Regions from separate parts of the Homo sapiens genome. Here all the other regions are linked to region 1. The links come from fine-mapping of genetic effects on plasma protein levels. A gene starts in region 1. Each other region holds a variant in brackets. All regions are shown on one strand. Distances are from middle to middle.

Region 1 (7,984 bases):
AAATTTTTAAATTTTATTGCAATGTTAGTTTGCTAGTCAAGTAAGGAATTGGGGATTGAAAATTCAAGTCTAGCATTATTTTTGTTAGTTTTTAAAGAAACCCTCTTTTAACATAGTTTTGTGAAAAGTTAGAATACTAACCTTTTCTACTTACATTGTTATTATAGACCTGGTTTAAGACTGAAGTGTGGTAAACTCTTTTGTCCAAATATGACAAGTAAAAATATGAAAACTATTACCTGATATGATTTAAAGATCAAACTTAGCATGCTCCCCTCCCCAATAATTTTAACTAAATAAATTCTAAAGCCAGAGGAGTTTCATATATTCTCCATATGTTCTTTTCACTTAGCCACAAATATACTGCTACTATTTTATTGTAACCTTGAGCAGTTATATTCCCTTTCTGAACCTTTCTTTTCTTCTCTGTTAACATAAAAATAATTTCCACCTCCAGCCTGTTAATTATTCTCTGATGCTACAGTTTTCTAACAAAGTGATCTCTAGTCTAATCATTCTGCTTTGTATTGGAAGACCAAGTAGACACAATTGAGCTGGCCAGTAGCTGCAATAGATGCCACCGTTAATTACCTGGGCAAGATCCTTGTTGGAGTCCTCCTCTTTTGCTGCCCCACTCAGAGGATAGGCAGAGCAGACTGGCAGACACAACAGCACAAGGAATGCAAGATGCATCATTCTCACTGCCCTTACCTTCTTTGTCTACTGGGCTTCTAGCTCTACCCCCTAGTGGCCTTTCTTTTATACAGAGACAATGCTGAGATCACCAACAGTATGATTCATGCATGTGTTTTTTAAGTCTGAATGTTCACAAACATTTAATGTAATGGTGATACAGCCTACATCAGTATTTTCCTTCAACTTTCTAAACTTGAAAGAATGATTAATCCCCAGGAAATGATTTCTGTGTTTGTAAAGACGAAAAAGAATTGGCTAGATAATTCACGTCTCTGTATTTACTTAAAGAGAGCTGACAAGCTTGGTAAAATGCCAAATGTTTTGACATTTTAAAATCAGTGCAATTTTCTTTTAAGAAGATTATGTTTTAAACTTAAATATAAGCAGGTAAGAATTAAGTAGGTCAACGGAAATAAATTCCAAATATAGTCGTGGTCTAAATGTGGGAGTTGTTATTTACAAAGATATTAAAACAAATATTTCACTTCTTGAGTCCTTGTTTACAATAGCTATTATTGATTTTCAGATGGATTTACTGGCCGTGGAGTAGGGGTATTGTGAGAAGGACATGGAGCATGTAGAGAAAAGAATCCAAAGAGAGAAGCTTTGGTGTTCACTCATTCTCCATTTCCCAGTGTATAATTATGTTCAAAGTAACTGCTCCATAAAACTTGTTAAATGGAAAAAATTAAATTGCATGTTAGACTGAAATGGTCCTCCTACCCTCTTCCTCTTCTTTGCTTTTAAAAATTCTTTTCCCCCTTTCTTTCTCCTCTTAAGGTACAAAGGAGGAGATGGATTGAGATCTGTAATGGGAAATGATTTCAAATCCTCCCTTTCTTTCACATGTCTAACGATCCACCCCTGCCCACAAATAGTATTTTCTTTCTTGTTTTCTCAGCCAAATAAAGTGCTTTTTACGCAGTAACACAGTAAGTCTGCAATAACTGTTTTGTCAAATTAACCTGTTAATATAAAGAACCCTGAAATTCTTATAGTAAAGAACTATATTTTTCTCTCACTAAAGATAAATTAACTCTACCATGTCTGAAGTACATAATTGCAAAGTGATGAGAGATTAAAATAATAAGTGTGTAGGAATGATCTTTTCAGTATCGCCCACCATCCCCACCCTACTTAAGGTAGCCTGGACAGGTGAGACTTCCAGGAACCAAGAGGCTCTGAGACTTCCAAGCCAGAGTTGGAGAGAAACTGGGATATACACTGAGCCAGCCAAGTCAACTTGTGACTTACTGTTGCCAAAGAGTTTGCTCTACAGTGTGGTGACATCAGCTTGAATATCAGAGGGAGAAGGACTGACAACTAGACTCAAATAAAGTCAGCTGGACATTGAGCAAGTACAGTCAGGCACTGTATAATGTTTCAGTCAACAATGGACCACATATATGATGGTGGTCCCATATGATTATAATGGAGCTTGATATGGTTTGGATCTGTGTCCCTGCCCAAATCTCATGTCGAACTGTCATTCCCAGTGTTGGAGGTGAAGCCTGGTGGGAGGTGATTGGATCACGGGGGCGGATTTCTCATGCCCATTTAGCACCATCCCATCGGTGATGTTCTTGTCATAGTGAGTGAGTGAGTTATCATGAGATCTGGATGTTTAAAAGTGTGTAGCACCTAGCCCCTCTCTTTCTTCTCCTGCTCTGGCCATGTAAAGTGCAGGCTCCTCTTTTGCCTTCCGCCATGATTGTAAGTTTCCTGAGGCCTCCCCAGAAGAAGGTGCCACCATGGTTCTCATATAGCCTGCAGAACCGTGAACCAATTAAATCTCTTTTCTTTATAAGTTACCCAGTCTCAGGTATTTTTGATAGCAATGCAAGAACAAACTAATACAGAGCTGATAAGCACCCATCAGCTATTGTCATTGTAGCCAACATAATGTCATAGTACAATACATTACCCATGTGTTTGTGATGATGCTGGTGTAAGCAAACCTACTGTGCTGCCATACGAAAGTCTAGCACATGCAATTGTGTACAGTACATAATTCTTGATAATAGTGATAAATGACTGTTTATGCATTTACTATACATTTTATCATTTATTTTAGAGTGTACCTTTTTTTTAAAAGTTAACTGTAAAACTGCTTCAGGCAGGTCCTTCAGAAGGCATTCCATGGTTACTGCCCTATGCAGGCATTATTATCATAGGAAACGACAGCTGCATCAGCGTTACTGCCCTGAAAGACCTTCTAGTGGAACTTGATGTGAAGGTAGAAAACAGTGATATTGATGATCCTGATCCTGTGTAGGCCTGGGCTAATTCGTGTTTTGTGTCTTCATTCTCAAAAAATAGTTTAAAAAATAAAAAAAATTAAAGATAGTAGAAAGCTTATAGGATAAGGATATCAAGAAAAAAATATTTTTGTACCTCTGTGAAACGTTTGTGTTTAACCTAAGTGTTATTACAAAAGAGTCAAAAAAAGTTTTAAATTAAAAAGTTTATAAAGTAAAAAAGTTACTACAGTAAGCTAAGGTTAATTTATATTGATGAAAGAAAAATGCTTTTATAAATTTAGTGTAGTCTAGGCATACAATGTTCATAAAGTCTACATAGTGTACAGATTCACTCACCACTCACTCACTGACTCACTTAGAGCAACTTCCAGTCTGGCAAGCTTCATTCCTGGTTAGTGCCCTATATAGTTGTACCATTTTTTATCTTTAATACCATCTTTTTATTGTATTTTTTAATGTTAAAATATGTGTAGATACAGTAATATTTATTATTATGTTACAATTGCCTCCAGTATTCAGTAGAATTTCATGCTGTATAGGTTTGTAGCCTAGGAGTAATAGGCTTGCTGGGCATGGTGGCTGACACCTCTACTCTCAGCTACTTGGAAGGCTGAGATGGGAGGATAACTTTCCCCAAGAAATTTTTAAAAGGCTATACCACATAGTCTAGGCATGTAGTAGGCTGTACCATAGAGGTTTGTGTAAGTTTAATCCATGGTGTTTGCACAATGGATAAATTGCCTAAGGACATGTTTCTTAGAATGTGTCCCCATTGTTAAGTCACACATGACTGTGTGTAATTAATTCAGGCCATTATTTTGTCATCTGTAAAATGGGGTGGATATAACCACACTCACAAAGTTATTTTGTATGCTTTATGCTGGGGAACAAATCTCTTCTTATTTCACTCCAACACCTTTAACAGACAAAGCTTGTTGGCCTGACAAATCTGTGACAATGCCCCTAGGCCCTGATTTGACAAGCTGTGAGATGCCCATTTTCGCTTGAGTCATAACTTTATTAGTGTTGACACATCCTGTTAATGGATTTTATTATGTGGTAATGATACAATGAAAGTTTACATTGTAGTAATAGCTACGACTATAATTGGGAGCCTATAGGGTAGCACATGCCTCACAGAAATGATGTTAGTGTTTAAACTTGTCCTGCATTAAACCATGACACCTGGTAGAAATTAATGCCCTGGAGCAGGTGAGTCCTATGTTTGTCTTTATATAATTCATTACTTGTTAAACCTACTGAAGTATGTATAGGGTCAGGCAAGGAAGCATACAGAGCTCATACTTAAAGAAAGGTGAAACGCCTGGTATTGAGCTTCCACTGTAGTCAGTTCTTAAATGTGAGTTATTTTTAAACTTCAGAACAACCCAACAAAGTTGAGATTAGAAAAATTGAATAATAAGCTCACGATCAAAAGCTAACAAGTGGGAAGAGATTATTCAGAACTGCCAGAAGAAACCTTCATGACTACAACTTGGATGTTTATCAAAAACTTCTTGGCTTCATTCCATATCTTTGCTATTGTGAATAGTGCTGCGATTAACATACAAGTACAGGTATCTTTTTGACATAATGATTTCTTTTCCTTTGGGTGGATATCCAGTAGTGGGATTGCTGGGTTGAATGGTAGTTCTATTTTTTTGGTCTTTGAGAAATCCTCATACTGTTTGGAATACTATGCAGCCATAAAAAGAATGACGTAATGTCTTTAGCAGTAACATGGATGGAAGTGGAGGTCATTACGTTATGTGAAATAACTTAGAAACAGAAAGTCAAATACTGCATGTTCTGATTTACAAGTGGGAGCTAAATAATGTGTACACATGGATATACTGTGTGGAATAATAGACACTGGGCACTCAAGAGGGTGGGAGGGAAAAGAGGGATGAGAAATTATCTAATGGGGGCACAATGTCTTCTGTTCCAGTGAGAGTTACACTAAAAGCTCAGACTTCAACACTATGCAATATATCCATGTGACAAAACTGCACTTGTACCCCCCAAATATATTTAAAATAATAGTAATAACAAAAGTTTTAAAACAACCTCTTGGCTTGGACCTTGGTTCTTCCCCAGCTTTTTTTCTTTTATGTCTTGACACTGTTCTTTATCTCTCATTCTTTTTTTTTTTTTTTTTTTGAGACAGAGTCTCACTCTGTCTCCCAGGCTGGAGCGCAGTGGCGCAATTTCAGCTCACTGCCAGCTCTGCCTCCTGGGTTCACACCATTCTCCTGCCTCAGCCTCCCGAGTAGCTGGGACTACAGGCGCCCGCCACCACGCCCAGCTAATTTTCTGTATTTTTAGTAGAGACAGGGTTTCACCGTGTTAGCCAGGATGGTCTCGATCTCCTGATCTCATGATCCGCCCGCCTCGGCCTCCCAAAGTGCTGGGATTACAGGCATGAGCCACCGCGCCTGGCCTATCTCTCATTCTTGAACTCACCCCTGAACATGCCTTCAATTTATCTCCTTAGCTTTTGTTCTTTTCTCCCAACTCTCTGATCATCCTGCTAACACAGCTACTTCATTTGATCTATGTTTATCTGTTCTGTCACTTGAAGTTCCTCTTGGCCTGTGCTGCACTGATGTGATCCAGACAGAATGCAGGTCTACAATCCATTGCAATTTCAGTAACTAAGACTGAGAAATGCCTAACGGTTTCTCACTTCCAGTTTATTCAATTCTTGGGAAAACTGGTTAGCTATTAATTTTCAATACCCAAAGACCTCTGATTTTAAGGTTGTACACTTATACATATAATCCTGCGTCAACCATGGCATGACATTGACTTCAGTATTTTGCAACTTCTTCTTTTGTTGGAAATTACTGGTTTTTACACAGACTCATAACAAGTGAAAAGTTGATCTCTTTCCCATGCTTTTAGTTCCAATTTGACTGCTTCACAATGGGAACACAGTTTATTGTTAGATTTATATTCATTCTTTTCTCTATTCTGATAGTTTAGTCAAATATTGCAGGCCACTTGTGCTTGCTATAGAAAATACTATCAATGGAAGGAGGCAAAGTATCAAAGTAGGGGTTAGACGGACCTCAGAATCATGACTTCAGTGTTGTGAATATTAGAAAGCATAATTTTATGTTGTGTCCTATAATGGCCATTATTATTTTAACAATACCTAAACACATAAAATAATGCTCTATGAATGCAGTTACTGTATTTCCAATGTGTAGGAGATACAGTAACAATGTGTTAGGTTAGTTGCTCTGTTGATTCCTTGGTGCAGTGGGCTTTTCTGGTGGGAAGACCCTCAGTGAGGAGGAAAGAAGCACTGAAGAAAAATTCTGGCTGTAGGGGAATATGCGAAAGAAAAGGGCAATTATCATTTGTTGAATATTTTCAACATGACAGGCACTGTGCTAGGTGATCTAACCTCTTCTATCTTTACGACAATCCTGGAAGTTAGTATTATTTTCCCTTTACCATAGAAAGGAAACGAAGATTCAGAATGGTCAAGATCACAAAGAGTTGAGTGGCAGAGCAGATCTTGCAGCTTTGCACTGCAATTCATTGGCCAGAACACTGCCCCTTTAAGACATATGGGCTAGGTCTGGAAAAAAGCTACTACTTCCCCTTAGAGTGGTGTTTGGGGTTAAATTCTCTAAAAGGATTCAAACTGGAAGGCTAGAGCCTCGTTTAAAACCCAAACAAAACCCAAACAAGCAAAACCCCTACTTTCTAGTGCATTTGTGGGCTCAAAGACAGCAGGGGAAATCTCTAAACACTCCTCTTGAATCACTCTGTATCATGTTTCTGAGGCTGTGTTAATTTGCTCTAGTAAAGAAATCATGTCTGAAATAGTAGCTGTGATGATAATTACCCACTAGGTAAGTTACCTGCTAGGTAGTTACCCACTAGGTAAGGCCACCGTCATGATGTATTGGGTTTATGCAAGGGCTCCAAGGATTCATTGAGTGAGGCTGTGAGAGGATTACCCTCCTTGTTGCTTTTAAAACTCTGATAGTGTAACCAGTCTGTGCAATCCTCCCAGGATGTGACATTGGTTTTTTGCTGCTTTTGGTTTACTATTTTGGCCAGAGTTTAGGAGGAGCAGTTTCAGGGGCTACTAGTTGGCCCTTCCTACCATAAAGATCTTATTCCAGAAGTCAGGGAACAACCACAAGATGGTCTGTGGGCCCGCTGGGCCCACTGTGAGATGACCTTGAGTCAGAACCCTATTTATCACTTTCCCTCATATACCTCCTTTCTAAACTGGAAGGCCTTAATACCATGTTGGGACCTCTGATACCAGCTCAGTTCAGATCTGGTATCCAACTGTCCTTGCCAAATCTGAGTACTCTTCTTCCCCAGTGCACGGTTACCCTGGTGGATGGCCATAGGTACCTTTATGAGGATAATTTAAAAGACATATGTAATCCTTGGTATGTAGTGGCATCACAGTTACTAAGATGTGTGTGTGTGTGTGTGTGTGTGAGAGAGAGAGAGAGAGATAGAGAGAGGGAGAGAGAGAGAGACTAGGTCCCCTTGAAGGAGGATTTCTGTCTCCATATATACACATACATATATATATACACACACACATACATATATGTATGTTTTTTATGATTTTTGTATACATATTATAACATATACATATTATGCATGTTTTATATTATTTGTACATACATATGATAAGTATGATTTGTATATACATATGTATATGTATATATAGTATATGTGTGTATATAAATGGAGAGATATATGTATGCATGTGTACATACATATGTATATATATGTATATGGATATGGATGTGTATGTATATACATGTATATACATATACATCTGTATGTATGCACTTTTACCATTCTGCTATCCCATCATCTTTAATGATACTAGAGAGGCCAATTCCCCAGAAACACCTCATATTCTTAACCCACCTCACAGAGAACAACCACCACCAGGTATCTCTGAGACACCAGTGTGCACCCTCACCAGTGTGGTCCTTATGGCTTCAATGAAAGCCAATGAAAAGAGTGCCCTCTGGGCC
Region 2 (7,984 bases), 54 kb before region 1:
ATGCTGTGATGGGTGCTAGAGTATTGGAGATAAATTAATAGAGGTTTGGATAAAATGCTGTGGGTGTTTGGAGGAAACAGCAGTGGTGTGGAGGGAGTGAAATCAAGGAAGGTTTCATGAGGGAGGTGGAATTTGAACCGGATCATGAAGAGGTAGAATGTAGACATGCAGAGATGTAGCAACCCATTCTTTGTATTAATATAAATGTGACAGCTTCCTGCCAAATTGTTCAAAGATCACGGTCATGTTCATCCTCCTTGAGTTCATGGCTTAATGTGGCTTTCTTTACATTAGGTCTTTGGTGAAAAAATGCTTTTTCCTCCACGAAAATGCCTTAACATTGGTCTAACTCTATGTTGAGTTATTTTGATGCAATGGCTTGCTTACAAGGTTTATAAATGTACTTTCTTCTGAACATAACAGCAAGTGATTTAGTTGAGAATCTAAAACTTCGGTAAACTTAGTTTTTGGTGTTTGGGTAAATGCTATGTTAAAAAATTGAACGGTTGGGTCTGGATTCCCCCAACAGGCCCAGCCCTGGTGCAGTGGTGGAGAAGGCTATACTGCATTTGCTTTCAGGGCTCCAGCTTGTGCCTTCTGAATCCTTTCTCCACACCTGACCACTGTCTACCTCCGTGGTGTCTGTGCCTCACCTGCTTCTGGTCCCTGGGACTGAGTTCTCTCAGGCTCTCTCCCCCAAAAATCAAATCAGTCATTTACACTTCAGTGCGAACAGGAGTTGTTCGCCTGTTGAGTAGATATCTTGCTAGAAAAAACAAACAAGCCAACAAAGTTTTAAAAATGAAGGTATTGTTCATTATAACATGAGTTTCAGGGCAAGTTAAGAAGAAGAAAGAAATTTAGTTTGCCCAGAAAACTCACAAGGCAATGTAGGCTCTTTCTGCCTCTCTATTACTAGCCTCCCTCCTGCCCCTTCGGCAGCAGCCTATTCTCATAAGGATAAGGATATTCTTATAAGGATAAGGATATAGATGTGGGTTCTACAGCAACATAGCAGGTGTATTTTTATAGTTCAGTTTTGCTTTCTAGGCCCGAGGAGATGACACAGATTGCATAGATATAGTCTATTTGTTTTTTAGTTATAAAATAAAGGATGAGTTGAACCAGCTGGGGTGAGCACATGTGCCTGAATCTTGAATGATGAGTAGGAGTTGCCAATGGGGAATGTGATCCAGTAGAAGGAACAGCGTCCGCTAAGCACAGAATTATACCCAGTGAAGCCGTGGCTCATTTGATTCACATAAGCCAAGGCAAAATGTCCTCAGCTTCATGCCTTTCTGAACTCTCATGATCAGAATGGATGTCCATATACCCTGATCAAGTTAACAGAACAATTGTTAGGGCCAGTTGTGGTGAAAGGTAAAGAGCATTTGGGTGGAAATTAAACTTACTGGGTTCAAATTACAGTCCTGCCACTTCCCACTTATGCAACTTTTGGCAAATCTAAGTTCTTCTGAGGTTCAATTTCCACACCTGTGAAACTAGTGCATTAACATCTCCCTCATAGGGCATCAAGGGTATTAGATGAGATCATACATGGAAAAAGTCTGTGTAAACCCTTCACTGTGCTGTTCTCTTTGTATTATGAATGTGGTGAAATTATAGCCACATTAGTTCATGCGTCCGTTCTGTGAATGAGTTAGAAATGCTGAAAATTTCTTCTTTTCCAGAAAGAGAAGTGCTTCTAAGTTAAGCCACCAAGTGAAGTAACTTCCATGGAGCTTCCTTTAGTAGCCAGTGTTCAAGTTCAGCCAGGGAACATATGTGTGTGACTCACATCCTTTGCACAGAGTATAAATGTATACACTCAGATCTCACAAGTCATTATGGATTAATCACTGTGCTAAGTCTTAGATATGCAGCATCTATTACCTTCCTTAAGCTTCATAACAACCCAGAGAAGTGGGAGTTATTATCCCCATTTTAAAGAAGAAAACAGATTCAGAGATATGATTCAAATTTACCTTTTCATTGACTCTTCCTAAAATCTCCTTTGTTCTCTCAATGAGGAAAAAATTTTTAAAAGTGATTATTCTCAGTCTTGGCACTACATCAGAATCTATATTAAACATACAAGTAGGCTTCTTTTATGAACTAAATGTTGTGTCCCCCAACCCCAAATTTACATGTTGAAATCCTAACTCCCAGTGTGACGGTATTAGGAGGTGGGGCCTTAAGGAGGTGAGGCCTCATGAGTGGGATTAGTGCCCTTATAAAAGAGACCCCAGAGAACTCTCTTTCTGTCTTTCCACCAAGTGAGGATCCAATGAAAAGTTGGCAGTCTGCAGCCCAGAAGAGGGCCCTCACCAGAACCTAACCATGTTAGCAGGCTGATCTGACTTCCGTCCTCCAGAACTGTGAGAAATAATGTATTTCTGTTGTTTATAAGCCACTCAGTCTATGATATCTTATTTGGCAGCCAGAATGGACTGAGCTCCACTCCAGCTACTGAATCAGAATCTCTGGGGTGGGGCCCAGGTATACACAAGTTTAGAAAGCATCCCAGGTAACAATGAGGATGAGTTGAGAATCTCTATTGTAAGAGAGGATGGAGAATATACAATAAGAGAAGTAAAGAGTCATGTTTTAAGATTTTAAAAAAGGAAAAATCATATTCTATTGGGGAGATCCACAAAGTCTTTGTAGGGGAAGTGGACACTGAGATAAACTTTGAAAGGTGGATTGAATTTTGGCATTGAAATTAAGTTAAATGAGGGTGGGATTAGAAGCAAAAAGCAAAGGTATTGTGGTAAGAAATCTTGGATTGTAAGTGAAGAATAACAAGGGTCTGGGGGAATCAGCATAGAGCATATAAAGAGAAGCAGCTTGGAATGGTAGGCTAGAACCAGATAGTGGAGGGGCAGGAATTAAACATCAAAAGGCCAGCAATGAGCAGACATTGTTTGTTTCTGAGCCATGTAACAATCTATGCTGACTTAATAAAACTAACCGGGCCATAGTATCTAGGATAGACTGGACTGAAGAGAGGTTATAAATAAGAAGAACAATTAAAAGGTGGAGTAAGAGTTTAAGTGAAAGGTCGTGAGGACCTGGCCCTAGCGGGTGGTCATGGGTCTTACTCTTGGTGTGGGGATGGATGGTGAAGAAATGAGGTTGAAGAAGACAGGAGGGAACCTGGGTCATCACACCACACATCTCCAAGGAGCAGCAATTCGCATCACAGATACACACAGATAAAATAAAAGTTGCCTTAAGGCCGGGTGCGGTGGCTCACGTCTGCAATCCCAGCACTTTGGGAGGCTGAGGCAGGCAGATCACCGGAGGCTGGGAGTTCGAGACCAGCCTGACCAACATGGAGGAACCTCGTCTCTACTGAAAATACAAAATAAGCTGGGCATGGTGGCACGTGCATGTAATCCCAGTTACTTGGGAGGCTGAGTCAGGAGAATTGCTGGAACCCGGGAGGCAGAGGTTGTGGTGAGCCGAGATCGTGCCATTGCACTCCAGCCTGGGCGACAAGAGCGAAACTCTGTCTCAAAAAAAAAAAAAACAAAAAAAA[C/A]AAAAACAGAGTTGTCTTGAGAGTCAAAGAGTTCTCTTGAGGATGACAGATGGAATCAAGGCTAAGGCTGGAGCTGAAGGAAGTGGAGACTTAGAGAAGCCGTGGTAGTGAATTCAACCCACAGATGAGGCTGATTAAAAGGCCTGCTGAGCAGCCGCCATGGTCCAGGCAAGTGAGAGAGTAGCTAGAGTGAGCATGGAGGATCTTATCCTTATGGTTTTGATTAGCCCCAAACATTTCCATTTCTGCCCCTGTATCTATTGTCCTCCCAACTAGAGGGTGTTGAGGATAAGAAAGAATGGAGAAAATGACCCATTGAGAGTCAACGACTGTCCAGAAACTAGTTTGACAGACCCACGAGAACAGATGGCAGAAAAGTAAACATTTCCATTCCAGGCCGCTCTGTGTATGTAGAGGCAGGAAACTGCGAAGTGGATTTTGCCAAAACTCTCTTTTCTACTAAATCAATCCAGCTGTGTGGCTGGAATGCCTCATTTTTCATTTTTCCTGAGGCACTGTCTTTTCTAAATCTTCTCCATTCTTGATTTTCTAACAATGTCTAGCTATAGCAAGGTATTACTTCCCACTTTAAGTAAATGCCCTCGTTTTCTCTCATTTTTACCACCAAAATATTCAATTTCTTAGTGTGTCCATGGGACTCTTTCTGTATCTCCACACCAGAACTATTCTCCTTACACATTCCCCCGCTATTTCCTTTCCCTCACTGGCTGCTTCCTGTTTGCCTACATGGTTTCTCTAGTAAAACAAAATAAAACCAAACAACAGACTTCTTTCTACCCTATTAATCACTTGAGTTACCATCCTGTTTCCTTTCCCTCACTGTCAAACTTCTTGGAAGCCCAGTCAGTGCCTCTACTCCTTCAAACCACACACCCGCTCCTCCTCACACCACACACCTACTACTCACACCACACACCTGCTCTTCCTCACACTACACACCCAATCCTCACACCACACACCTGCTCTTCCTCACACTACACACCCAATCCTCACACCACACACCTGCTCCTCTTCACACCACACACCCACTCCTCACACCACTCACTCCTCACACCACACACCCGCTCCTCCTCACACCACACATCCACTCCTCACACCACACAACCGCTCCTCACACCACAAACCCGCTCCTTCTCACACCACACACCGGCTCTTTCTCACACCACACACCTGCTTCTCCTCACACCACACACCCACTCCTCACACCACACACCTGCTCCTCCTCACACCACACACCCACTCCTCACACCACACACCCGCTCCTCACACCACGCACCCACTCCTCACACCGCACACCTGCTCCTCTTCACACCACGCACCCACTCCTCACACCACACACCTGCTCCTCCTCACACCACACACCCACTCCTCACACCACACACCTGCTCCTCCTCACACCACACACCCAATCCTCACACCACACACCTGCTCCTCCTCACATCACACACCTGCTCCTCACACCACACATCTGGCTCCCATCCCCCTTGGAGCCCAACCAGCTGTCACCCACATACGCCTGTTGGAGTCTGTGAGAATTCATCTCAATAAACTGTCTCACATCTATATAGTCCCCACTAGATTCTGTTCTCACTCCTCTTGATCAATGGTTCTCAACCTGAATTTATTTTTTAACCTAAAATATCAGAAAGACACCACATATGCCCTTTGGTGACATTGGCTTGTCAGGGGCAGTGGATTAGTTTTCCGCAGCTGCTGTAACATATAACCACACGTCCAATGGCTCAAAACAAGATAAATTCATTGCCTTACGATTCTGCAGGTCAGAAGTCTGGTATGGGTCTCACTGGGCTAAAATCAATATGTTAGCAGTGCTGTGTTCCTTCTGGGAGCTATAGAGGAGAATCAGTTTCTGTGTTGTTTCCAGCTTCTAGAGGCTATTGCATCCCTTGGCCTGTATTTCCACCTCTGCCATCTTCAAAACCAGCAATATCACTTCTCTCTAACCCTTATTCCATCTTCTTGTCTCTCCCTGATCACAGTTGGGGGAGGGTCTCCACTTGTGAGGACTCAGGTGATTTGATTGGACCCACTGAGATAATGCTAATCTCCCATTTCAAGGTCCTTAACCCAAATCACACCTGTGAAACCTCTTTTGCCATGTAAGCTAACATGTTCACGGGTCAGGATGTGGGCATTTTTGGGACCATTGATCTTTCTGTTACAGGCAATAATTCTCAATGAGAAGAGATGGAGGTAGTCAGTAAATGTGTAGACTGACTGCACAGGGAAGGGCACTTCAGGATCTGTGGTCTGCATGTGATTTGAAAAGCCCTTTAGGAGACCATGCCCTATAACTCCAGGATAACCTGCACCCACCCTGTTCTCCATTTTGACTTTCCATGCCAAGAATATGTGAGTATTTACTGAATACTCATTAGAAGTGAGGTACTGTCATAAAGGCTTTTGCAAAGTCACTTTTATGTAAATTTCTTAGGTATTACGTCTTTTAAAAGCAATACAGAAACTGAGGATCAGAAAGGTTAAGTGAATTACCTGAGATCACACACTGGCAGATGTGTAATGTGTGGCAGAATTTGGGAATCCAAGTTTGGTTTAATTCCAAGGCTCTTTCTGTTCAGTCTCCACAAAGTCTTCTACTGGAGTTGACCTTCTGCCTGAGTAGCTTCTTTAGTTTAAATGTCACATTAAGGTCATTATGGGAACTTTCTGACTCTTTCTTCCTCCAAATTCTACAGATGTGGTTGCCTCATACATCAGGACCAAACATCAGAGGAACCTGAAGTGACAAGCCCGAGGTACTCACAGACAGCCTGTTTCTCTTTAGCATGGGGAATGGAAATCCGAAGACCTGGGTTTGACTCCACTCTATCATTTGCTTGACCTTGCACAAGTTCCTTCATCTCTCTGTCTTAATTGCACATCCCTAATTGGCCACTTATTACTGTGGGACCCTAGACACAGTTCACTTCACATCCCTAAGTTTTAATTCCTTGCGTGTAAAATGGTGGTAACAATAGCCCTGACATCATAGGAATGTTGTGAAGATTAAATATGGATGTGTAGAAAATGTTTAACACAGAGTGCAAAATAACAGATAAAAATTACAGTTCTCTGGCAATTAAATATAAAAAAAAGCCTCACAGGATAGGAGCACTTTCTATATTGCTATATTGTTTTACGTTCTTATTTCAAAGCCGTGGGCTTTAAGGAGGTAATGCACGAAAAGCAATATAGAAAGTGTTGTTCAAACGATTTATTTTATTTTAAAAATCACTTATTTTTAAATAGTCTAGTAATACAAAAATACATGCTTATTAAAAAAAAAATTCCAAACTTTCAGAAGTACGGTAAGTAAATGTGAAGTTTTCTAACCCCCTTTCCCCCTACTTCAGTCCCCTCTTCTAGAGGTAACCAATGTTAACATTTTGAAATGTCTCCATCCAGATATTTTTCTATGGCTTAATGCTCCCAGAGTAAGCTGGTGTATAGCAGACGCAACCAGTGGCCTTCAATGAAGTCACGGATGGCTGAGACCTGTCACTCTTAGCCATGCTAGTGGTCATCATGCCCCCTGTAAAACCAGCAGAGGGCGCCAAAGTCCACTGGGGTATTCGGAGGGTGAACTGTTCGGTCAGATCAACAGTCTTCTTCGAAATAAGAATGTAAAACAAATAGATCCCATTTATCTCATTTAGTAAGGATGAGCCCAGGTTTTGAACTAGGTAGGTTAGTGGGAGAACTGGACATTAAAGACTTGGCCAAAGCTCATTAAAATGAATAGTTTGCTTTAGGTGAGAATGCAGAATGAGAAACTCCACAGTGGTCACAATGTTCCTAAGCACATTATTTTGTCCTCTGTTAACAGATCTTAATGCCAGGTTGTGGGTGGCAGTTTTAGCTTACTTGATAAGGGCTATCACATTCTAAGTGTCAGTTCACCAACAATGGCCATCCAGGCGGTGGCTAGCTTCCCGCTCTCACAAATAGTTCTGTATTGGCTGCCCTACAAGTCTCCTGGGGATCACAGTCAGAATGAATACTTACAAGTGGGACTACTGGGGTTAGAATACAGGTATTCTTATGATACAGCCAGATTTTGCTTCACAATGGTTGCACCAATTAACAGTTCTGCCCGCTGTAAATAAGGGTTCATATTCCCCATGTTTTTATCAGCACTTAATATAACCAGAACTTCTAATTTCTGCCATTTTTGGTAGGTATAAGTAGGTATCTTTTTTACATTGGTATTCCGTTGATTACTAGTAAGATTGGATATCTCTTTATATGCTGTCAGCTACCCAGATTTCCCCTTCTAATAATAGCCAACTTATTTCCATGCCTGCATTTCTACTGGATTTCTTACCTTTTTCATGTTGATTTAAAAGAATTTCTTCTCTGAACCACCTATTAATCTTTCCTTAGTTTCATATGTTGCAGACA
Region 3 (7,984 bases), 13 kb before region 1:
CTTTTGTACATCTTCAGTACTCTTGTCTTCTAAAACTGACCCAATCATGGCTAACTGCATAAATCCCTGCAATCTGGGACAACTCACTGAAGAGAGGCTCTAATACCAGCATGGTATGTTATACAGTTGATGCCATTGCTTGGAGTCCTTTCACAATTGTTACTTAGTGCAGTTCCCAGGATCTTTATAGAATTCAGACGTTCACGTTTCAGTGCCGTCTAAATAGAGTGCCCTTGAAGTCACTCTAAATACCGGTTTCTCCATTCCACCAGCCTCTCGGACATTATAAGGAGACGTCCTGCACACTTTTTAGAAAGAGCAGCACTGGGTCTACATCTGCCCTAAAAGACGGAGAGCTGGAGAACCTTCTGCTTACTGTAGTGTTTACTACTAAGCTGTCGAGGATGCAGGCGAAAAGGAAAAGGAAAAAATGTTTCTGGAAAATTGAGATTTATGAATGTTTCCTTGGTGCTTCCAAAAATGCCAGCAAATGGCAGAAATTGGTCCAAAAGTTCACGAATTTAAATGCTGTCATCTTTGACATTCCAACACTGGTCTCACTCATGTGGGCCAAAAAGTGTTTGATGAGGCTCGAACATCCCAATCCAGTCACCACTAAAGATACAAGGAACATCTCTATGGTAGCCAGACTTAAACTCAATTCCAAATCTTCCAACCTTCAAAGGCTCATACTTTGTCTTACTTCTTGCCATTTCTGAATGCCGCGCCAGTCGTCCGGGCTGAAAACCGTGTTGTACACCCGGAGATCTGACCCCATCATTCACCGTAGCTGCTTTAAAACCGCATCTAGAAGGCAGTGTCTGCCTCTGCCTGTTCCAAATGTCCATTAAAAAGGCCTTAAGAATCTGTCCTCCTGGACGTCTTCGCAAAATATCTTTGAGAAAATCAATGGGTAGTGGAGTTGTTTAACCAAATCAACCTGTCCCCCGTCGCGGGTGTCGTTAGCCGCTGGGCTGTTGGGCAGCCCCAAAGCCAGCGTCTGGTCCCTGCCGCTCCTGGGCTCTGGGAGGCTCCCAGCAGCCGAAGGGCGGGATGCTCACTGCGCAGGCGCGAGCCTCGGCGGCAACCCGGGTACACATGTTACTTTTTTTTTGTTTTTGTGAGGAAGCCCTTTGTGTTTATGATTAGTGTTCTCTATTAAATATTTCTGATTCTCCTCCTAGGCGTGTGACAGTATATTATTTGACTATCTTTAGTGTCAGATGAGGCAATGTAATTTTCTTTGGCCAATGAAGTATGGGCAGAATGATGTTTATTGTATCCACACAGACTTCTAGGAGTCAGCGCGAAATTTACCAATAACTCTTTCCCTCCGCCGCAGTGAAGGCTGGCGTTCAACGTGGTGCCCGTTCCATCAGCCCGGGTCTTGAAGTGAGGACAACTTGGAGTAGAGACCCCAGTGGAGTACTACGATGCACTTTTAGTTCTAAGCCACTGAAAATCGGGAAGTGCTCATTACCACAGCATATCCTGGCCTGGTCTGAGTGATACTGCATTTTACAAGGTTCAGTCCTGAACCATCTTCTTTTATCTCTGCAATCTTCCCATATAAACTTACCTATTCCCATGGCTTGACTGATGCCGCCAAACACCCACAGTTTTATCTACTTTGTTTTGAGCTCCAGATTCCTCCATCTAATGGCCTACTAATGCCTTTAGTTGGTTAACTTACAAGAATTTCTATATTTAAAAGGTGAGGTGATTCCTACTGAATCTTAACTTTCTCCCACAAAACTGCTTCTCTTTCAGCCTTCCCCTGACTCTGTTGAAGCTGCTGTGATCCAAGAATTTGTTCAAGCCGGTAATCTAGGAATTATTCTTAATACCTTCCTTTTTTCTCAGAACTCTATCTAGTTTATCATGAAATCTGAATGATGTTGAAATATATATCAGGGCTGGGTATGGTGGCTCAACCTGTAGTCCCAGCACATTGGGAGGTTGAGGTAGATGGATTGCTTGAGCCCTGGAGTTCCCAATCATCCTGGGCAACATGGCAAAAGCCTGTCTCTACCAAAAGTACAAAAATTAGTTGGGAGTGGTGGTGCACACCTGCAGTCCCAGCTACTCAGGAGGCTGAGGTGGGAGGATTTCCTAAGCCCGGGAGATCAAGGCTTCAGTGAGCTGTGGTTGTTGCACCACTGCACTCCAGCCTGGGTGACAGGGCCAAAAATAAAATAAAAATAAAAATAAAAAAAATCCAGTCATGTCTCTCAATCTACCCAGAGGTCCCCTGTCCCTACCACCCTTCCCTGTCATTTTTAACCTGTTCCAACTTTTGTCGTCACTTCCTTCCAACTCTCTCCAGCTAAAGTAATCATTCAAAAATATAATGGCTGGCATAACTTATCTGTTTAAGACTCACTCGATGAATCTACAATGCACTAAAAGTGAAATACAACTCTTTAGTATACTGTAAAGACATTGGATGATTTGATTGTGTCTACCTGTCTAATATCTTATTCCACCCCTACTCTCCAACATGCCAATAGGCACTCATCTTTCAGTTCCTTGAACATGCCAAGGACTTTTATTTTTTTAAACCCACTGGGCCTCAACACTAATTTGCATTTTCTTTCCTTAGAGTAGTCTAAATCCTCCTACCCATTCACCCACCTGGCCATTTGGATTTAGATGCTTTGTTTTTAACATTATTTTCCCAGAGAGACTTTCTCTAATAACCAAACTTTAACAGATAACCCTTCCTCCAACAGTACTCTTCTTTACAGCTTTGTCGTTTCTCTAATAACAGCTTTATAATTTGTAGTTATACATTAATTTATGTTCTTTCATTTGATTTCTTTCTCTCACCAGACAAAACTCAATGAAATTGAGTTAAATGTATTTTCTTCACTGTTTCATACTTTGCAACTATGACAAAGTCTGGCATTAAAATTAGTCAATAAAAGAAGGAACAAGTTTCTATAGTGTTGTCAGTATGGTGTAAGCATGTAACTTCGTGATGGTAAATCTGTCACAAAATTGGCATGTGCACATGCACTGTTATCACTCAGGGGTTTCCATGTACAAAATGGTAGCAAGAGAGTATTCTAACAGGAGGGTGAGGGTGAGGGGGAG[A/C]TGAGAAATTTAGTCTCTAGAGCAAGAAAGGAATCCCACTGAAGAAAGATTTGGGTTAAAACAAGAGGTGAGTGGACTCCAAACTAGTTTTATTTCCCCACCTGTAAAATTGGAAAGTCTATTAAATAATATGCAGGTTCCCAGGCTCTAACATTCTAGAGTTCCATTTCTCCATTTTGTTTTGATCCTGCCTAGATACAGGACAACTGTTGATTTACCTCTTTCTTTGTTAGGTGTGTAAGGAACACTTACAATATCTGTGAGATGAAAAGAAAGATCCTGTTGGTGCAGAGAATAGGAGAGGGTATGTGACAGCCACATGACTAATTTATAGAGTGTGTGTTCCTACCACACCTACTGGCAGACTATCTGTCAAATAATCAGTCCCCAGTATGATCAGGGTATTGAACATGAATTGTTCTAGAAAGTAAGGAACAGGCCCAAAATAAAACTTTTTATTGAGGAAGTAATAACACATCTATGAAAATACATTCTCTCACCTATTGCACATGAGTATTTCTTAATTCTGTTCAGTGCAATTCAAAAGCAAGTGAAGAATTCCAGAAACATTCTTCATGACACATGCAGATATCTGCAAGGCTCATCTTCTTCAGTCACAGAACATGCAGGAAAAATTAACCATTTTGGCTCATAATACATTAGATGAATAATTATTAGATTTATTAAAAACACCCATATCTGTCTTCCCCCTATCTCGCCTAGCAATGTAACCAGCTGTTACTCTTTAATATGTGTGTCACCATCCTGGCATTGGGGTCAAACTCAAACTGTGATGATCCACTGAAGAAGTAGAAAAATCCTGTAAATATAGATAAGGAAAATGATGAGACATCTTCAAATATGTCATTTTGCAACACATATAACTTAGATTAAGTACAAGTTAATAATGGAGGGCATTTATTAAGTGATTACTCTATGCCAAGCACTGAGCTAAGTGCTTTACATGCTTTATCTCAATTACCCTTACAAAAAACTGTGATGTGTTATTAATGAGAACAAAACTAAAAATTAAGACGGTTTTGTAATTTTAACAAGGTAGCATCTGTAAGGAAGGAAGGAGGGAGGACTCCATCTCATCTGACTCCAAAGGAAGTGCTCTAAAACATTACGTCATACTGGTTCTAAAGAGATAAAATTCTATAATATTTTAAAACCTTGTTTTACTTTCTTTCCAACCTCCCCTCTTCTGCTAGGTTCTAAATTACAGTTTGGGAGACAACTAGACCCAAGAGAATCAGACAAATGATAAATGAGCCAGAGGTCCATTTCCTGCTTTGCATCCATCATGGTTAAGTCATTTTAGTAACAAGATCATCAGCCTCATGACCATTGGATTGTCAAGCACTGGCAGCTCCCTCCAAAATTCCTTCAGAGTAATCAAGAACAAGTTTTGCTTTCCTATTTGCCCATTACCAGGAATCACATTTGACCTATTTTGAGCATATGGGAGGACTAGTATTTTATTTACAAATGACTAATGCAGGCAATCGCAGACTGCAACAGAAGCCCAGACAAGGCTCCCCTGGGGTGGGATAGAAGAAAAGGGACAACAGGATGGGATAGAGTAGAATGACAACCAGCCATCAGTAAGCCTGGCTCACACAGATTGTATTTTTATACCAACATAGTGACCTGAAAGATAATGGCTTCTGTGTGAGGAAGTATCCTTTGATTTTATGTGCGGATATGAAACAGAGACTAGGAAGTTATTCAGGAAAACACACACACACACACACACACACACACACAAATTTAAACCCACTTTGCATAAATTGGAAAGTTAAGATTTTCAGGAATTTGGAGTAAAAAAGATATCAGACTGAATGATTTAAAAACTGTTTTGATTCTGCACTTTATTTTGAAATCATAAAAATGCCTGGAGATTCCTGCATGACAATGAAATAAGGGTCTTCTTACCAAATGCCTGTAATACAGCATCAACCTTAGGCTCAACTCCTGGAAAGTCATCAGCTATTAGTCTAGGGAAGCCTTGCTCCATGGACTGGCTATTTTCATCAAATCTAAACCAAATGAAAGAAATACAGTTCAATGATGTGCAGTAGTCCCATTACACACAATAGTATAATGTGATGTTAATTTTCCAGTGTGGAATCCTAGACAAACTTTTTAAGTTGTGTAAAAAAGTGTTAAACATTTTTAGAGCTACAAGAATAGGTTACTTTCCTGGGCTTACAAGTTTAACACATAAAACAATATTTTCCAGAAACAGGAACATTATGCCATTTTACAGAGGTTCCATACATATGTCTGAGGTAAATTTTCTAAGCCTGGACACACAGAAACCAAATTTCCCTGTGTCTACTATAAATACATAAAGACTGTGTAGACATAATGAATTCATAATGCAAAATTAATTAAATCACTTAGCTAAAAATAAACCTCTGGTTCTCAGTCACACTGGGACCCTGTAGATCCTGTCTCCAAAGCCTGCCACACCTGGGCTTCCTATGGCAGCCACATGGTGACTGGAAATGGAATAAGAGGTGAATGCCTTTGGACCTCAGCTGGCCTCTCCTGATGTCTTTTAGTGTCTGAGTATATGGCCCAGTGATCACCATTCTGAGAGGCCTTTGTATCCGGAAGGTAGAACAATAAGCTGTCTTCCTCATAATCATAAATTTTGAAGTTAGAGAAAGTTAGAGGGTGGGTGTAGGGTAGGGAAATATCCTTAAAGAAAGAAAATAATTTTCTTAATCAGGCTTCATAGAAAGTCATTTCTCTTGCATCTCACCTCCAGTATTTGTCCGCTGCAAAGAAGTATGTTTTCTTCTTTTCCTTGTCAGAAACAGCTGCATCAATTTTCCTTATGGTTGGAGGAAAACCCAGGGTATGGATGCCTCTTGGATAACCTGCTTGTACCTCATTTCCTCTGATGGCCCAGAACTCATTTCCTATTGAAAAAATAAATCCAAGACATTTTACTTGAAGCCATTGATTTTAAAAATAATTATAGTGCATTGTTGTGGTAAAGAGGAAGGCTTGGTTTTAATTCCAACCTAATAATGTCCAGTTCACAGCCAGTCCTTAATAAATACTCCCTGAATGAGCGAGTGAATGAATGAATGAATAAATGAGTAGATAACTCTGATTCACTGCCCTTTCTGTGTCTTATATATTTGTATCTATATGTTATAGTTTATTTATAGATCAGTTTTAGTTATTTCTTATAATTGTTGGTAAACTTTTAACCTGAATTTCTCACCTAGACCTCTCTCTCTTAAGTTTCATACCAATAGATCAGTTGCTTATTGGACACTTCCTTTGAGATATTTCACAGTCACCAATTCCAATCTGTGCTTCTTGTGAACACTATCGGAATTCATTCAAATTCTAGTGAGTTAGGACAATAAAATCCCATCAATCTCTCTGCATTTACTTTGTTACATCACTCTCCCAGACCCCAAGCCTGAATTCCTTCTTCGCACTCACTGCCAGATTCACTAATCTAAAATGTCCATCTGTTGTTTATCTCTCTTGCTTCGTCTGAACCGAATGACTTGTATCTGTCTGAGCAGTTCCAGATATGCTCTTACTTGGTAAAAACAATTTCTTCTTTCTTAAAGACCTTTCTACTTTCTGTACACCCAGCCCATCTCTGCACAACAATAGAGAACTTTAAGACCCATCCTAACATCACCTCCCCTAAGGGATCTTTGCTGAGTCCTGGGTATGAGTCAGGTGCTCCCATGGCACCCTTCCTTCTCTCAGTCCCAGCACTTGTCATATGTAGGCTGCCAAAGGCTTCATCTCTGCTGCCCCTTCTAGAATATGAGCCCTTTTCAGTCCTGACCTCCACCAATGAGAATGGCGTCTGACACAGTGCAAGTGATATGTAAATGTGAGATACATTACTTGATAACAATACGTTAGAGTTATGTAATCCTTTACAATTTCTACTGCAATTTCACATTCATTTGATCTTCACATAAGTGAGATTGCCAGAAATAAATATTTTTAAAATCTCCATAAAGCTTGACATTTAAAAATATTCCATTATCACCTATGAGTCTAGGGAAAAAATAAAAATGAGAAATTAAAGAATTAAAATTGAACAAAATGAAAATACTGCATATCGAAATTTGCTGGATGAAACAGAAGAAATGGTTATTTATAGGTATAAATGCTTGTATTAGAAAAGAAAAAAGTTACAAGTTAATAAGGTAAGTATCAAACTTAAGCTATAACAATAATAACAGGATCAATTCAAAGTAAACAAAAATTAAGGCAACAATAAAGATATGAACAGAAACTAATTAAACGGGAAATCAAAATATAATATAGAGAGTAAATAAAGCCAAAAGTCAGTCCTTTGAAAAGATCAGTAAAATTATTACATATATTATGAGATTGATGAAGAAAAAAGAGAAAGGCAAAAGGATTCAGTATTAAGAATGAAAAAGAAAACAAAACTTCAGCAATAATTCAAATTACAACAAAATAATTTTCCAAAAACTTTTTCTGATGGATTTGAAAACAGACAAAATTGGCAAATTTTTAGAAAAACATGTTAACAAAACTGACTCAAGAAGTAATAGAAACTCTAATAGCATATTACCAATAAAACAAATTGAAACAGTAGTTTAAAAGTCTGATAAAGAAGCCTCTATACCTGAATATCTCCATTAGTTAATTTATCTCTCCCTGCACTGATACTACATCTTACCGATTAAAGTTTTATAACACAGGGCTTTTCTCCTCATCTAATAAGATGGGTTCACCAGGAGCATCCTGGCTATTCTTGGCCTTTCCTCTGCCATATAAATTGTAAAACTAATTTGTCAAGTTCCATGAAAAATCTTTTGGCATTTGGTATTTGAAATGAAAATGTCTTGTATCTATAGATAAA
Region 4 (6,424 bases), 57 kb after region 1:
CCTAAGAAACACTTGTTATTAAAAAGTTTCAATGCTCCTCTTCCCTCTGATATCATAAAATGTTTCAAGTGCTCTATGGCCAACACAGTAAGTATCCTCTTACCAAATTCTTCAAAAACAGCATCAATCTTTGAGTCAATCCCTGGAAAGTCTTCAGCTATTTGCTTGGGAAAGCCTGGCTCCATGGAATTTCTCTTCTCATCAAATCTGTACCAAGTAAAAGAAACAGCTCAGCATTGCATAGAGGCCATGTTACCGAACATCTTAGATCATGTTAGGTTTAATGTGGAATTTTACTAAACTTTATAAATACTGCAAATAAATGCCAAGCATATTTGGGACTATAGAAATATGTGACTTTAATGGTACTGTAAAGAGTTCTGAAAGCCATATCTCCATCCGGAACAGGGGCCGCATCCTGCTGTATGTAGCACATGCTGTTTGTCATCATATTTCTTAAGCCTGGACAGAAAGAACCTTAATCATCTTTCTGTCACAAAGACATGAAAGTGTGAACATATATATAAAGTGAATTGAATCAACATCTAAAATGCAATTTTAATTCCCTACCACAATTGGCCCATATATGCCTGCTGTCCCCTCCCCTGCACATCTAAATCTTCTCTGGTGGCCTCCTGGGAAAAGGGATTAGGATAAGAAGCAAAGCACAGTAAGTGTGTTTTTAGCCCATTGGCTGGATATCAGATGGTCGGCCTCGATGTCTCAAAGTCTGGCCAAATGACCCAGGAATCAACCTGTCTGTGAGTGTTGGGTTGTATCCATAAACTGGACTGCTATTGATCATCATCTCTTAAATGAGCCATCATTATCAGGTAGAGGTGACAAGTGGGTGAGGTTAGAGGTAGCCCTTGAAAATCATATAGTAGTGTTAGGAAGACAAAACAAACACACAATGAGACAGTGACAAACACACAGTGAGACAGTGAGCCAAACTAAAAGACAATGGGAAGGGAACGCTAAATTGCGGTCTGGGTTCTCAGAACATTTTCCCAATGGGTCTAAAGTCCACGAGGGAAAGCTGCATGGAGGTGATGAGACTTGAGCCAGGACTTGAAGGATGGGCAAGATTTGAATAGGTTGAGGAGAGAAGAGGGGGCTCCAGGCAGGTGGGGTGACAGCACCAAGGGAAGCACCAGCCAACTGCACTTGGGACTGAAAGCAGGAGAGCCTAAGGTGCTGCTGTTTTAAAGTAAGAACTTTCCCACAGTTGTCTGAAGTCCCATCCTTCCTACTAAGAGAGAAGCAGGCCTAAGGTTGGGGTGGGGGATTTCCTTAGTAAAAGAAACTAATTTCCCTAATTAGGCTCCATACAAAGTCATTTCTCTTGCATCTCACCTCCAGTATTTGTCCTCTACAAAGAAATATGTTTTGTTCTTTTCCTTATCAGAAATGGCTGCATCGATTTTCCTCACGGTTGGAGGGAAACCTAGGGTGTGGATGCCTCTTGGGTATCCAGCTCGTACCTCATTTCCTCTGATAGCCCAGAATTGATTTCCTGTTAAATATAAATAATTCAGAGTCATATTGAATTATAACAGTTAAGCCCTTTCGCTTTAGAAATACACTTTAGCATCTTTGATTTTCATGGTAAAGTAGTAGCCCAAATTTTAGATTTAGTCACCAGCTTACAGTGGGCTTTTCACAAAAATTTGCAGACTGAATGAATGAACTAAGGTCAAATGAGAGAATTTACAACTCTGGGTAATTTATCTTCTTGTCTTTATTTTTATCATCTATGAAATATAAATACAATGATATCAGCCCTGGTTATTTCTTCATTACCGTTGACTACTGTATTAGCCAGAACTTGTAGTAGGGAAAATTAAAGTGTTGTTCAATTTCTTATGAGAGGGTTTACTTTGGCAAGTTAAACAAATGATGATATAGTAATTACCTTTAAAAATGAAAACGAGGTCCTTGCTAGTAACTTCATATGCGGCATCCACGCCTGAAGGAAGAGATGGCCAAAATGAAGAGATCAAATGCAATTCAGGTTCAAGCTTCCTGAGGGATTTGCGCCAAAAGTGCCTAAAATATATGTAAAAAGAAATGTAAATTGAAAAACAATCTTTCACCTTTAGAATATTTTCCTCACCGTCTTGCCTCACCCAGCTTCCCCCATTCTCTCATCTTCTAGGCTGGATGACAGATAGAAATCAGGTATATTGCCATTAGAAAATTTCTTTCCTTTTTCTTCAGAAGACTGTAGTGAGTCTCCCGTCATAGGTTTCCAGAGTAATGTCTTCTATGAAAGAAAAATTATTCTATCGTGCAAATGAATTAGCCCAGCATAAGCTTTAATTACCTGCAATGTATGCAAAACAGTGCGTGTGCTATACCCTCTTCCAAAAGCTAGGCCGTGTTTGTATACGTGTATGTGCTGTGTAAATATATTCTTGTATGTGTGTAGAAAGATTCTGGAAGGATGCACAAAAAGTCTTGACTCTGGATGAGTACAGGGAGAACTGGGAACTAAAATTTTTAATTTGCTTCTCATTTGTGCTCTTTGAATGTTTGTCATGTGCATATTGATCCATCAGTAAGTAAATTACTTGATTAAATGTAATGTTGATCCTGATGTCATTTTTAAAGGAAGTAAAAATAAAATTATTATTCGAAAGATCTACTCATGCCTTTTGAAAAGTAACTGTGACTTAAGACATTTGGAAACAGCAATTAGAAGCTAAGAACCAGATCAGCCTGTGCCTTCAAAAATGAACCTGACAATTTTAGGAAAATGTGGGAAAAGGCAGCACCAGATCTAAATGATTCCAAGCTCAGAAGAAACGTTTTTGTTTTAAATGTCTAAGAATCTCTATCAAGTTTCTGCGTGTTTTCCTTTCTAAACATTGTAGATTAAAATGGTAGGAAAATATAATTTTTCAGCCTGACCTGTCTTTAAAGATCAGGATTTCTCCCCTCAGAGTGCTGACAGCATCAAAGGACAAAGCAGGATCACAGTTGGCTGGCGTCCCAGGTTCTGGAGGGACAGGTTCCGTGGGTACCAGGGGGGTCTCAGGGGAGTCAGGGGGAGGTCCTAAAGGGAACATTAGGGGAAATGTGATACGTTTCAATATATGCCCATTTGTATGCTTTCCAAACATTCTCACGGTGCTTTGAACTAAATCATAAATACTTTATGTAGCATTTGAAAGCTCTTCTGAAGACCATCATTGCAAAACTACAATGGCTGATTTTCCCAGTGTCACTCACCATAGAGGGACTGAATGCCATTTATATCATCTTGAGACAGGCGGAACCGAGTCAGGTCTGTGAGTGAGTGATAGAGTGGGTACATCAAAGCTTCAGTGTTGGCTGAGTGAAAGAGACCCAGGGAGTGGCCAATTTCATGAGCAGCAACGAGAAATAAATTGGTCCCTATTTAAGAAATTGAGAACAATAGTTACTTATTTTTTAAATACATGTGCATTACACAGGTCTGCTGTGCATTGTATTGGTTTTTACTTCTTGGAACCACACAGGGCTTTTTACACCTTGTTTGTTGGTTAATTGAACAATTGACTAATTACACACTTAATGGAAAGCTAAGTGTATTTTAAAACTCATACCTGTAATCAATCTTTGAGATTGATTTCCCAGTTACATCCACTTGCCCCCCATGGCCCCAAACCCACCCCCAGCCTCACAAGCATATTAACTCCAGAAGAACCAGATCCCTTTTCTTGTACTCAGGAATGGAATGAACCCACTTGCTTAGCATATCAGATATTTACCTTCATTTGTCAATGCAAAGCTAAACACTGTTTTAATATATTTACATTTGCCATTTGCAGTCTCAGTTAAAGGAAACTATATTCATGTTAATTGATAATGTCTCAGCCTCATCATCATGAAGTACATATTGAGACTAAAAACATGAATAATGATAGATGTCATAGGATTTGCAAAATTGGTTTAAAACACAGTATGCCCAATCATGTCTAGCATTTGTCACACAACAGATTTAGAATACATAAACACTGGCTTTATTCAAAATTTTTTCCTTCATATTTTTAAAAACACCCATAATGCTAAAATTGGGAGGCATTGGGTAATTATGATCAATATAGTAAGTAAATCTACCTTACTTTTGCTAGTATTACTTGTGTAACTTGTGATGCTAGGAACAATCTCATTTGAGAGTTTGCAGGAAGGTTTCTTTACAAGAATTCGTTAACTCAACCAATCAAGAATTCTATCCAGGACTAAACTCACATTTGTACGTCCTACAGAGGTTTACATTTTCATTATAAATCCCAGTTAAACCTCAGACATAGTATTAATTGTTTTCCTATTTTTTTAGAAGTAGTGTTAATTGTTTTAGCTGATTTTTTTGAAAACTTTGGATGTCATTCCCCAAAACATACAGTTATGAACTGAGAAACATTCTTCTACCTAAACAGTTTGAACGTTGTATTTGGGAGTTAGTCTTTTCCTTCAGAACAAGCCCATAAAAATTCTTTTAACCTAAAAGTACTAAAATAATGCCTCAGCCAGAAAAAAAAAAAAAAGAGAATCTCAGTTTCTGAAATTTAATTCTTATTTCTGGTTTGAAGAGTAAAGAAGTAAATGGAGGAAATTACATAAGTAACATCCAGAGCACATTTTAATGTAGATTCAGTGCAATATACTATCCCTTGAATGTTTGTATTTTGATATGAGAAATTTTTCTTAATAATGGTTACCCCTAGATCACAAAGATCCAGTCATTAAAGAAATACTTAATGATATTTCCTATATTGTGCTTACCAATATAGGAAAACTGTTAAAGCATCTGAAAATATTTTCAATAATAATTAAAACAAAAATATATTCTGCTGATCTCTGATCCACTGGAAAATCCAGAACATCTCATTTCTTGAGCATTCTTGGTTATTAACAGATTTCTACATATAAAAAAATTAATGCCAAAATCATTCTGAGAGATGTGTAACTAACCTGTTGTATCCTTTGTCCATTGTTCATCATCATCAAAGTGGGCATCTCCATTAATCCCTGGCCCAGGGGCATAGGCATGGGCCAAAACATTTCCAGGTCCATCAAAAGGGTAAAAGTCTCCATGTTCTAGTAGGAAAAAAATTTATTGGAAAGATATGTAA[C/T]AAGGATCCCTTTTGAGCCTTTTCCAGTACAACAACACCAGATAGATGAATGGATACATTTCATGTGTTTTTTGTTTTGTTTTGTTTTGCTTTTTTTTTTTTTTTTTTTTTTTTACCTCTAACTGCAAAAGAGATCATTATATCAGCCTCTCCTTCATACAGCCTGGAGAATGTGAGTGGAGTCACCTCTTCCCAGACTTTCAGAGCTTTCTCAACAGCAGAATCAACAGCATCTTTTGGCAAATCTGGTGTATAATTCACAATCCTGTAGGAGAAAAATTGAAGCAGATGCTATTTTCTCCTATGATATAGTTTATAAAATTCCAATCTTATGTGAAAACCCCTCTGAACCATTACCTGTATGTAAGGTGGGTTTTCCTCCACTTCGGGATGCCAGGAAAGGTTCTGAAGTGACCAACATCAGGAACTCCACACCTGGGCTTGCGCATCACCTCCAGAGTGTCGGAGTCCAGCTTCCCCGTCACCTCCAATCCAAGGAACTTCTGCATTTCTCGGATTTTTTTAACAACAGGACCACTGTCCTTTCTCCTAACAAACTGTTTCACATCTTTTTTGAGGTCGTAGTAGTTTTCTAGATATTTCTAACAGAATAAGTATAGTTTTTAGGTCACTCTTACAATTTTTACTATAGCTATCTATTTATAGTAAGTTTTTGCAGTTGCTCACTTCTTAATCTATTTGGAGTATTTCTCTAGCTTGCTGAAATAATGGCAAATTTTATAATATGATACTAGCAACACAAATATTTAGCTAAAATTACGTTGCATTAAAAAAAAAACTGAAGCTGTTCCAAAGCAAGATATGGTTCATCCACTCTCCACTTGTTACTCATGTGCCTTAAGCCCCAGTGCTGCTACTGCTATGGTGTTGTGTGATCTTAAGAAAACACCTAATATTTCTGGCCTTTGTTTCTTCCTACATAAGAGGAGAAGCCCAAATGGTGTGATAATGAGACCTTTTCCACTTCCAACACTCTATAACTCTCTATTCTTGAACTGTTCCTACACAGTAAGCTCAAGCATTCTATGTGGGTTTTAAGACACACAGAATGGTTTCAGCTTACTCTGGAAGCTCCCCACCTGGCCAGGTCAGTTAGTGTTAATTACCTGAACAAGGTTCATGCTGGTGTCCTCACCCCTTGCAGCTCCATCCAATGGATAGGCTGAGCAAACTGCCACGCACAGCAACAGTAGGATTGGAAGACTCTTCATTTCCACTGGCTTTACTTAGCTCTATGTTGTCTCTATGCCTTGCTGTCTTGCCTGCCTCCTTGTAGGTCCAAC

Alleles and levels. Positions count from the first base shown, and alleles are read on the strand shown. Strength reflects both the effect of a copy and how common the allele is.
As copies of A replace C in region 2, the plasma level of the protein whose gene starts at base 733 in region 1 goes down (moderate association).
In carriers of allele C in region 3, the plasma level of the protein whose gene starts at base 733 in region 1 tends to be lower than with A alone (moderate association).
With allele T in place of C in region 4, the plasma level of the protein whose gene starts at base 733 in region 1 is lower (moderate association).

What was found. PIP is the posterior inclusion probability: the model's chance that the variant is causal. Protein levels are from antibody-based Olink assays in UK Biobank. Linkage for the fine-mapping came from a reference panel and not from the study's own genotypes, which makes the PIPs less certain.
Region 2: its variant is fine-mapped to the plasma level of the MMP10 protein (UK Biobank, PIP above 0.99).
Region 3: its variant is fine-mapped to the plasma level of the MMP10 protein (UK Biobank, PIP above 0.99).
Region 4: its variant is fine-mapped to the plasma level of the MMP10 protein (UK Biobank, PIP above 0.99).

The regions. Positions count from the first base shown.
Region 1 is chr11:102,779,896-102,787,879 of GRCh38, forward strand. It overlaps MMP10 (matrix metallopeptidase 10), which reads right to left and starts at 733. Exons shown (of 10, transcript NM_002425.3): 1 at 592-733. The coding sequence starts at 696. It also overlaps the pseudogene WTAPP1.
Region 2 is chr11:102,726,331-102,734,314 of GRCh38, forward strand. No RefSeq gene overlaps it. Among named protein-coding and RNA genes, the nearest start is that of MMP8, 5.4 kb to the left of the region's middle. RefSeq lists silencers at 6,996-7,045, 7,166-7,215. The variant C/A (reference allele first, on the strand shown) is at 3,542.
Region 3 is chr11:102,766,978-102,774,961 of GRCh38, forward strand. It overlaps MMP10 (matrix metallopeptidase 10), which reads right to left. Exons shown (of 10, transcript NM_002425.3): 8 at 5,870-6,029; 9 at 5,035-5,138; 10 at 3,525-3,916. The coding sequence ends at 3,816. It also overlaps the pseudogene LOC100421658. Among named protein-coding and RNA genes, the nearest start is that of MMP10, 9.7 kb to the right of the region's middle. The variant A/C (reference allele first, on the strand shown) is at 3,097.
Region 4 is chr11:102,837,195-102,843,618 of GRCh38, forward strand. MMP3 (matrix metallopeptidase 3) reads right to left here and starts at 6,415. Exons shown (of 10, transcript NM_002422.5): 1 at 6,248-6,415; 2 at 5,478-5,722; 3 at 5,237-5,385; 4 at 4,960-5,085; 5 at 3,235-3,399; 6 at 2,914-3,058; 7 at 1,916-2,049; 8 at 1,357-1,516; 9 at 104-207. The coding sequence starts at 6,352. The variant C/T (reference allele first, on the strand shown) is at 5,121.